Linked DNA regions of Homo sapiens: region 2 is linked to region 1. Evidence: fine-mapped QTL for protein levels in blood plasma. A gene starts in region 1. The other region holds a variant in brackets. All regions are shown on one strand. Distances are between the middles of the regions.

Region 1 (5,379 bases):
AAGGTGGGGAGATTGTTTGAACCCAGGAGTTTGAGACCAGCCTGGGCAACAGGGCGAAACTCTGTCTCTACAAAAAATACAAAAATTAGCTGGGCGTGGTGGCGGGCACCTGTAGTCGCAGGTACTTGGGAGGCTGAGGTGAGAAGATCACTTGAGCCTGAAAGGTAGAGGCTACAGTGAGTCAGGTTGTGGCACTACACTATAGCCTGGGCAGCAGAGCAAGACCCTGTCTCAATATATATACGTGTGTGTGTGTGTGTGTGTGTGTGTGTGTGTGTATTTCCAACATGCCAGGACCTATATTAAGTGTCTACTATCTATTAGCTCGTTTAATACTCTGAAAGGCCTTATATGAATGACACTAACACCTCTTCACTGCACGTCAGAAGAAATGCAGGGCAGAAACGCGGCACAGCTTGCCTCAAGCTTCTCAGCAAGTGCCACAGCCCTTAGTCCGGAGCCAGAGTCTGTTTTTCTTTGCTAAGCCTTCTGCTCTTTAGCTTTTTTCTCTAATGCCACATCTTTCGTGTTTTGCTAATACAGATCCATGTGTGTTCTCCAAGAATCTATTCGCTTTAATTGCGCACTTAACCTTTAGGCCTCAAGATCCTCTGCTCTGCCTGTCGCCAGAGATCCAGCCCAAGAGTTTGTCCTTATAATGAAGACCCACAAACCCCAGAGGATCCCCAAGGACCTGAGTCATCTGGCCCCGCCTCTTGCTGCAGCCTTATCTGCTGCCACCATATTCTGGCCCAGCTTGCCAGCCTGCCTGGCTTCTCACTGTCATCTGGGTATGTCTTGCTCCCACCTGCTGAAGTTTACCTTGTACCTTTCATGGCTTCTGGGGGCACGGCCTTGCGGAGCCCCCCTTCCCGCTGGCCAGCTTGTGTTCACCTATCAGAGGTTTGCTCAGAGACCTCAGGTGTCTGCCCCCGACCCTGCAGCCTCATTCAGAGTCCTCTGTTATATTCCTGCAGGACTGGTGAGCGACCTTCCTTGCAGTTATTGGTTTGTAATTATATGTTTGCATGATTTCATATCCACCTCTTCTAGTTGATCTTAAGGCTCCTGGAGAAATGGGGTCCCACCTCTTTTCCTTAACATGTGTATTTTCAGTACCCGGTGCAATGTCTGAGACTCCTGGCTACAAACAGACACAATGTGTGCTCAGGGACAGATTGATTTGCCACAGGTACACCCCACCATCACTTCAAACTCGACCATACTAAAGTTATTTTGCACAGATGCAGACACTGCCTCAGACTTGTCGACTTTCTGGACGACATTAGAGACTTTAATGTACTTTATCCTGATTCAGCCTTCCACTGGATGAAGTAACATACTCTGTCAAATCATTTTGCTCCTGTCTCAGCCTCCCCCATCTGACAGGTACACCACTGAGAGGCTAAGCTTGAATTATTCCTCTGATGAGTATCTCTATAGCTTTGTCATCTCCAAGACTGGCTTTGCAACAATCCTACAACATGTGTGTATTCCTTGTAGGATCCTCATTGAACTAGGCCAGATATTTATTTAAATATTTAGAATTATTTTTGGCTGGGCTGTAAACCTATAGTTACACACACCTATGCAGGCATCTTCCCGTGTCAGGCGGTGTCTCATTTCTTTATCAAGAGGTAATTAGTGCAAGAGAAAAAAATGAAGTTTGAAAAAAACATTTAAAAATTGATTATGCCATATAAAGGGGGAAAGCCTTTTAAGAAACGATTATGGCATGAGAGGACCATGGAGTAGCTCAGTAACAATGGAAGGGGCTCGGAGGGTGGAAGGCGGGCGAGGGATGAGAGATCACCTAATGAGAACAATTTACGCTATCACAGCGATGCCTGCGCTAAAGCCTAGACTTTATGCAGTGTCTCCATGTAACAAAACTGCACTGGTACCCCAGAAATCTGCACTAAATCTATATAATGATGATGGAGGCTGGGCGCGGTGGCTCGCGCCTGTAATCCCAGCACTCTGGGAGGTCGAGGCGGGCAGATCACCTGAGGTCACGAGTTCAAGACCAGGCTGACCAAAATGGTGAAACCCCGTCTCTACTAAAAATACAAAAATTAGCCGGGCATGGTGGCGGGCGCCTGTAATCCCTGCTGCTTGCGAGGCTGAGGCAGGAGAATCGCTTGAACCCGGGAGGCGGAGGCTGCAGTGAGCCGAGATCGCGCCACCGCACTCCAGCCTGGGCGACAGAGCGAGACTCCCTCTCAAAAAAACAAAAACAAAAACAAACAAACAAAGATGGAAGGAAGGAGGGAATTTAGCAATTCTCCAGATCTACTGCCAGTGAAAATAGCATATGAGGAGGGATTCCAGTTAGAAATGCCCAGTTTCCTGGGTGTGTGTGTGACGGGGGCGGGGAACCACAACGTTAATTTTATCCCCGACATAGGGAGCGCCTGAGTGGTGGCTTTTCACCGGGTGTGGCTCGTCTGAGCTCTTGAACTGAAGCCAGCGGACACCACCCGTCGGCGCCTGCTTTCCTGGGGCGTGGGCTCCTCCCCCTGTGCAGACCGCGAGGGGAGACGGTGCGGGCGGCCGGGAGCGCAGCCCTCCGGGAGGCGGGTCATGGCCTGGGCGCCGCCCGGGGAGCGGCTGCGCGAGGATGCGCGGTGCCCGGTGTGCCTGGATTTCCTGCAGGAGCCGGTCAGCGTGGACTGCGGCCACAGCTTCTGCCTCAGGTGCATCTCCGAGTTCTGCGAGAAGTCGGACGGCGCGCAGGGCGGCGTCTACGCCTGTCCGCAGTGCCGGGGCCCCTTCCGGCCCTCGGGCTTTCGCCCCAACCGGCAGCTGGCGGGCCTGGTGGAGAGCGTGCGGCGGCTGGGGTTGGGCGCGGGGCCCGGGGCGCGGCGATGCGCGCGGCACGGCGAGGACCTGAGCCGCTTCTGCGAGGAGGACGAGGCGGCGCTGTGCTGGGTGTGCGACGCCGGCCCCGAGCACAGGACGCACCGCACGGCGCCGCTGCAGGAGGCCGCCGGCAGCTACCAGGTGAGGCGCCCCCCGGCGGGGGCTGCGGGCGCTGCGGTGACCGGGAAGCGGGCGACAGTCCGGAGCGGAGCCGCCGAGGCCACCCGTCTCCTGAGCGGCTCCCACGGCCGCTCCCCCCACCGCGCGCCGTCCCCCCCGCCCACGCGGCTCACTCAGTGTGGGTCTCTTTGCCTTGGCTGTGGTAACCCCCTTTGCGACACACACCCATTATTTTACACCGTCCGCCCCTCCCCCAAGCACTCTCCTGTCGTCGAACTCGCGCTGGGCTGGTTTCTCCCGATGCGGATAGTCTGGTCCCTCAGCTGGGCTCTGGTCGGGAGGGCTGTGTGGTCCAGTTCATTCTTGGTAACAATTGTACGTCTATATCGTAAACTTGCCATAATAATTCTCATTTGTGCAATGCTTTGCTTTTGCACAGTGTTTACATTAAATGAGTGTTGTCAGCAAAGCAACCCTCGGGTTTGGGCGTTGTTAAGAAGAGTGTCGAGCTGGGTACGGGTTCCGACCCCTCCAAAGCTCAGGTGCACGTGCCTCCTGAAGTAGGAGCGGGTGGCTCTCCATCAGCAGGGATTTGGGGACTTAGGATTCGAACATCCTCAATGAAGAGGTGCTTCATTTGGGGTGTAGCCCGGGAAGCTTCAAAGAGAAAGAAGAAAAACAAAATGGGAGTATTTGGTCCCCAGAGTGGCATCTGTGAAATTGTGTGTCGATTTCTTCCTACTGGTGCCCTTCAAAAGTTCTTGGATGTTTTCTGAACACACTTGAATCCCAGCATGTAGAACAACTGCCAGCACAGAGGAGGTCTAAGTCGTCTTTACTGACAGATTTAACCAAAGGACTGTCAGTCGCGCTGTAGTGCATTGCAAATACTTTCTTAAAATTTTTATTTATTTATTTTGTTTGTTTTAAATTAAGGTTTAGGATATTTTCCCCTTCCTTCTCTACCAATATCTCTCTTGGTATTTCTTCTTGATTTTCGTTGTCATTTGCGAGATGTAGGTACTAGTACTAGGTAATTTCTAGCTAAACTTTTCTGGAATGTTCTTGCCTTTTTAAAAAAAGTCCAGAAAGAGGATTGGTAGTAACTTTTTTTTTTTTTTTTTTTTTTTTTTGAGACGGAGTCTAGTTCTGTAGCTCAGGCTGGAGGGCAGTGGCGCAATCTCGGCTCATTGCAACCTCCGTCTCCCGGGTCCTGGTGCAAGCAATTCTCCTGCCTCAGCCTCCCGGGTAGCTGGGATTACAGGTATGCGTCACCACACCCGGCTAATTTTTGTATTTTTAGTAGAGACGGGGTTTCACTGTGTTGGCCAGGCTGGTCTTGAACTCCTGACCTTGTGATCCATCCGCCGTGGCCTCCCAAAGTGCTGGTGTTACAGGCAGCCCAGCCTCTAGTGTAATATTTCTAAAGGTGTTCTCCATATTTTCAGTAGTTCTTCGGTTAAATACCAAATAAATATTATCTAAACTCCTGAGCCTCTCAGTGAAAGCTTTCTAGGGCCCTAAGTTATGTTTCCATAGCTCTCTTGTCTTAACCAGCCAGGAAACCCAGCAAATTTAGCCGAATCACTGTTTTCCTAACTGTGCTACATCTCCTTGCTTTTGCTGACAGTTTCTTTGGCCTGAGGGAGCTTTTCTTTATCTACAAGTGTCAAAGTGCTCCGTTCTTTGTAAACACCAAAACACATGCCACTTTCCCCACTGAGTCAAATGGTATCATGAATTCTACTGTTATTTTATATATAACAATTATAATATTCTCCTTTTAAAAACAATTGATGTGTATGTAGGATTTATTGAGTAACTTTGGGAATATAATTTTTTAATTAAAATCCTGTTTATGTATGTATCTTTGTGAGTATTTAAAATACACATATTTACCTCTAGTGAGCGCCCTATCATTGAAGGAAGATTTAGTTCTCATTGTATTTTTACTCATTGCAAGGTTTACAACATACTGTGTTTTTTCATATAAAATATGATAACCTACCAAGTTCCTTCTGACCTAATAATACTACTAATACTACAATAATAAACCCATGCTTTATCATAAAGTAACCAATAACTTCAAGAAGTTGAAGTTATATAGAGAAATACAGAATACAGTTATATAGAGAAATATATAAATATAGAGAAATGTATAAATATAGTTATATAGAGAAATATATGAAATATAGAGATATAATAGCATCACTCTTCATCCAAACACCAATAGATGACATTTTATCTAATATCATTCTCATTTACATCAGCCCAGTTTTAATATATTCATTACCAGCACATTTTTTTTCAAAATTCATGTTGTTTTGTAAAATATTTTTATTCATTGGACATTATCATTGTATTTCTAGTCATTAAACATTCTGTAACATCTTATTT
Region 2 (5,379 bases), 18 kb after region 1:
GTGTTGGAATAGATGTTATTACGGAAGGTGCCGCAAGATGGACAGATTTTTGTTATATACTGAAGGCAGAGCTGTTAAGATTTGCTGTTGGATTATATATGATGTGCTATAAACAGGAAGAGCCATGAATGATTCCAAGGTTTTGGATCTTGCGAACTGGCAAAATGTGATTGCCACTTATATTGATGAGGAAAGCGACAGTTGAAGCAGAAGAAGGGCACAGGGTTTTGGATATGTGGATGTTGCGATGAGTGCTAAATATTCAAATGTTGCTATCAAGTGGGCAGATGAATGTACAATAGGGAGTTTCAGGGTAAAGTTCAAAGCTAAGCACATGCATTGGGAATCAGTCAGCATATGAATGGAATTTTATCAAAGCAATGAACCAGCCAGCACCCGGGTAGATAGGGAGTGAGGTGAGAGAGAGAGAAGAAGTCCAAGTCTTGGGACTATAGGTTTCTCCAGTGGTGGTGGTGGAGGAGAAGAGAACAGCAAAGAGGATCAAGGAGTAGTGAGCAGTGAGGGAAGGGAAACATGGATGAGTGTTACCTTTGGAAAAGGGAGATTTTCCAGCACAAGTAGATTCTCAGTGTTGAGAGATACAGAAAAATCATTGAAGATGAACTCTGGGCCGGGCGCGGTGGCTCACGCCTGTAAATCCCTGCACTTTGGGAGGCCGAGGCGGGCAGATCACCTGAGGTCAGGAGTTCGAGACCAGCCTGATCAACCTGAGGAAACCTTGTCTCTACTAAAAATACAAAATTAGCCAGGCGTGGTGGTGCATGCCTGTAATCCCAGCTACTCGGGAGGCTGAGGCAGGAGAATCACTTGAACCCGGGAGATGGGGGTTGCAGTAAGCCAAGATCATGCCATTGAACTCCAGCCTGGGCAACAAGAGCAAAACTCCATCTTAAAAAAAAGACAAACTGACAAGTAACCATTCATCAACACGGAGGTCCCTGGGAAGATGGACATGCGCAGTTTGGTTGGGGTATGGTCACATCATGATGAAGAATTGAGTTTAGGAGAGAAGGGGTAGGGAGAGGAATGGGATACAGACCATATCAAAAGCCATTTCACAGATCTCTTTTGTTAGAAATGAAGCAGACCACTGTGCCGGAAGAGGAATGGCTTGGGAATACATGACCTGTTAGATTGTGTTAAATGCACAATCCATGGAGACCTACCTTTCAATCTCTGTTATTTACCTCTAGAGTTTGGGAAGACCACATAAACTCTTTGACTCTGAATCTACTCTTGTGTAATGTAGGGATGACAATGGTGACCCTCAGGGTGGTTACATAATAAAAATAATGCAATGCGCAGTTACGTGACCACTCAGGTTGGGTATCAATAAAAATTCACTAGACCGGGCGTGGCAGCTCACGCCTGTAATCCCAACATTTTGGGAGGCTGAGGCGGATGGATTGCTTGAACCCAGGAGTTCGAGACCAGCCTGGGCAACATGGCAAAACCCCTTCTCTACAAAAAAATACAGAAAACTAGCTGGGCATGGTGGTGTGTGCCTTCCCAGCTACTCAGAGGGCTGAGGTCAGGGGATGGCTTGAGTCTGAGAGGTGGAGGCTGCAGTGAGCTGTGATTGCACCACTGCACTCCAGACTGGGCAACAGAGCGAGACTCCGTTTCAAAAAAAAAAGTAGTTCACTGTAAGTGTTTAAAGGCAAATAAGTATAGTGGTAGTGGTAGTAGCAGTAGCAGTAGCAGTAGCAGTAGAAACAGTATTTGTTCTGATATTAAAAATCAAACTATATTAACATGTTAGTCTGATTTTGCATTGCTATAAAGAAATACCTGAGGCTGGGTAATTTATTAATATAAGGAAATATGCTTTATTTTGGCTCATGGTTCTGTAGGCTGTACAGGAGTCATGGTGCTGGCACCTGTTTCTGGTGAGGCCTCAGGACACCTACAGTCATGGTGGAAAGCAAAGGAGGAGCCAGCGTATCACATGGCAAGAGGGAAGCAGTGAAGTGGGGAGGCCCCAGGTTCCTCTTAAACGACCAGCTCTTGCATGAACGGATAAAGAACTCACTTATCACCAGTGGGATGGCACTAAGTCATTCATGGGGGATCTGCACCCATGATCCAGCACCCCCCACTAGGCCCCACCTTCAACATTGGGAATCACATTTCAACATGAGACCGGGAGGCGATACACATCCAAACCATATTATTTATTAACTTACTACTTATAAGCAATGCTAATAAGGAAATGCACTGAATATTTTACATCCCCCCTTCACTGAGGTTTCATATCTAGATGTATTTATTTATTATGTATATGGGTCAAATGTCTCATCAATCTCACTGGGACTTCAGAGTATCAGTATTTTTTATTGTTATATAACGCATAACTACAAGCTTATGTGCTTAAAGCCATACCATTTAGTAGCTCATGGTTCTGAAGACCAGACATCCAAGTGGGATCAGCTGGCTCCTCTGCTTAGGTTTTCTCAAGGCCCAAATATGGGTGTTGGCCAGGCCAGGCCAGGCTTCTGTGTAGGTCGGGGGAAGAACCTTACCTCCAACCTTATTCAGGTTGTTGGCATAATACAATTCTGTGCAAATGCGGTACTGAGATTCCTGTTTTCTTGCTGGCTGTTGGTTGGGGGCTATTCTCAGCTCTGGAGATCACTCTCAGCTCTAGAGGTCACTCGTTTGTCTCTTCATGTGACCTTTCCATTTTCAAAGCCAGCAAAGAGATATCAAATCCACATCTTATTGACCTTTCCTGCTGCCACCAACCCAATAGCCAGAGAAAACTTTCTGATTTTACAGGACTTGTGGGATTTGATTAGACGCACCTTGATAATCTCTCTCTTGTCATATAGTGTAACATACTCATGAGGCTAACACCAGGGTGTGAAGGTCATGGGGTCCATCTTAGAATTCCGCCTACCACAGTAATATAACTTTGGAAGTAGTGGATTTAATATTAATAAAATTCTATAGATTTTTAAGAAAAAAATTCCTAAGGGGTTTATAAATTTTATGTTAAATGCAGAAGATCCTCCTAAGTGCACTCAAATGCTTTGGATGTAAGCCAGACATGGTGGTGTGCACCTGTAGTCCCAGCTGCTGGGGAGGCAGACACGGGAGGATTGCTTGAGTCCAGGAGTTTGAGGCTGTAGTGTACCACGGCTATGCCCATGAATAGCTCTGCACTCCAGCCTGGGCAACATAGCAAGACCCCGTCTCTCTGTCTCTCTCTCTCTCTCTCACGCACACACACACACACAAATGCTTTAGATGTAAATGAAAGGAAACTAAATGATAATTCACTTGGTTTGTCGTCATCAATAGTTGTTTTTTTTTGGGAAAGTTAAAGAGTTCTGGGTTACGCAGAGGTAACAGTGGAATATACCAGAAAGTTATAAAGAATAAGAATAATAAAGTAATAAAGAAGATTTCACCTGTAAGGTGAAATACTGATTTGTTTTCTCTAGGAGTTAATAGAGAGAGAAAAGTGAGGAACTGTGGGACTATTCTTTTCAGTGGTTTCCTAAGTTTCTACCAGTCCTTTCTTTCCTTTCACCTGGTCCACCACATTCTTTCCGCAGTGGATGTAAAGCTGGATCCCGCCACGGCGCACCCGAGTCTGCTCTTGACCGCCGACCTGCGCAGTGTGCAGGATGGAGAACCATGGAGGGATGTCCCCAACAACCCTGAGCGATTTGACACATGGCCCTGCATCCTGGGTTTGCAGAGCTTCTCATCAGGGAGGCATTACTGGGAGGTTCTGGTGGGAGAAGGAGCAGAGTGGGGTTTAGGGGTCTGTCAAGACACACTGCCAAGAAAGGGGGAAACCACGCCATCTCCTGAGAATGGGGTCTGGGCCCTGTGGCTGCTGAAAGGGAATGAGTACATGGTCCTTGCCTCCCCATCAGTGCCTCTTCTCCAACTGGAAAGTCCTCGCTGCATTGGGATTTTCTTGGACTATGAAGCCGGTGAAATTTCATTCTACAATGTCACAGATGGATCTTATATCTACACATTCAACCAACTCTTCTCTGGTCTTCTTCGGCCTTACTTTTTCATCTGTGATGCAACTCCTCTTATCTTGCCACCCACAACAATAGCAGGGTCAGGAAATTGGGCATCCAGGGATCATTTAGATCCTGCTTCTGATGTAAGAGATGATCATCTC[T/C]AAAATTCTGTTCCCAAGATGCAGTCCTAGCGTAGCGAACGTTCCTGGAGTGGGGTGAAGGATATCAATATACTAAGTTTTAACAGATACCCCATTTAGGTCAGCACTTGATTCGTTGTTGCTGTGAAATATGTCCATGGGACAAAAGAGGGAATATGAAATATTTGCATATGGGAAGATTATAGAGCATAATAATTTTGTAAATGGAGCAATCTCAACCTCTATTTCTAGATCACATTTTCTTGATGTCTTCCTTCAAATTAATGACCTTGGATTACATAAGGATTTCTATGCATTCATTATAATTTGTTATTCCTTTCAATATCCTTGTATTTCAAATCTTCCATATAAGAATTAGACATGGCAATTCTTAAATTGATTCAGAATGGTCTGATACTATTCCAGTATCACCTCCTTAATTCTGTTTCTCCTCGTTTTCCTGATTTTCCTTCTCATTCTCTCCTTCCCCGCTCTGTCTCTCTCTCCCTGTCACTCTCTCTCTCTTGTTCCTTATTTTTTGTTTCTTACCTCTTACTGTTTAACCTGTTGCTTCCTTCTGGATTAATACATTTAGAGCCATTCCTTTATATGGTCACATTTCCTATGACTTTACTCAATTACTTTTAAAATCCTTTCTATTCTGAGACTAATTTTTAAGAATTACAAAGCTCATTCTTCTGAATCTAATATCACTAACTCCTAGACTTTTTCCGTTTTCTTTGGATACACTTTAAGTAGGAATTTATCAGAATTTTCATTCAACTCGTTCTTTAATGCAGATATTTACTAGTTATAAGACCTTAAGGCTGGGTGCAGTGGCTCACGCCTGTAATCCCAGCACTTTGGGAGGCTGAGGCGGGTGGATCACAAGCTCAGGAGTTCAAGACCAGCCTGGCCAACATGGTGAAACCCTGTCTCTACTAAAAAAAAAAAAAAAATAGAAAAATTAGCTGGGCATGGTGGCAGGAGCCTGTAATCCCAGCTATTCTGGAGGTGGAGACAGGAGAATTGCTTGAACCCTGGAGGCGGAGGTTGCAGTGAGCCAATATCTCACCACTGTACTCCAGCCCAGTGCGAGACTCCATCTCAAAAAAGAAAAAAGACCTCAAACAACACTTCTCTCTCTCTTTTAGCTGCTTGTTATGGTTCCTATACATGGAACAATTATACTGGCCTCACTGTGTTATGGTAAATATTTAAGGTCATATTTG

What was found. PIP is the posterior inclusion probability: the model's chance that the variant is causal. Protein levels are from antibody-based Olink assays in UK Biobank. Linkage for the fine-mapping came from a reference panel and not from the study's own genotypes, which makes the PIPs less certain.
Region 2: its variant is fine-mapped to the plasma level of the TRIM58 protein (UK Biobank, PIP above 0.99). The variant lies in the coding sequence of TRIM58. If it changes the protein, the assay may bind it differently, which can mimic a change of level.

What each region holds. Positions count from the first base shown.
Region 1 is chr1:247,854,664-247,860,042 of GRCh38, forward strand. It overlaps TRIM58 (tripartite motif containing 58), which reads left to right and starts at 2,524. Exons shown (of 6, transcript NM_015431.4): 1 at 2,524-3,003. The coding sequence starts at 2,584. RefSeq lists a cis regulatory region at 437-1,001.
Region 2 is chr1:247,872,319-247,877,697 of GRCh38, forward strand. It overlaps TRIM58 (tripartite motif containing 58), which reads left to right. Exons shown (of 6, transcript NM_015431.4): 6 at 3,582-5,379. The coding sequence ends at 4,171. Among named protein-coding and RNA genes, the nearest start is that of TRIM58, 18 kb to the left of the region's middle. The variant T/C (reference allele first, on the strand shown) is at 4,169.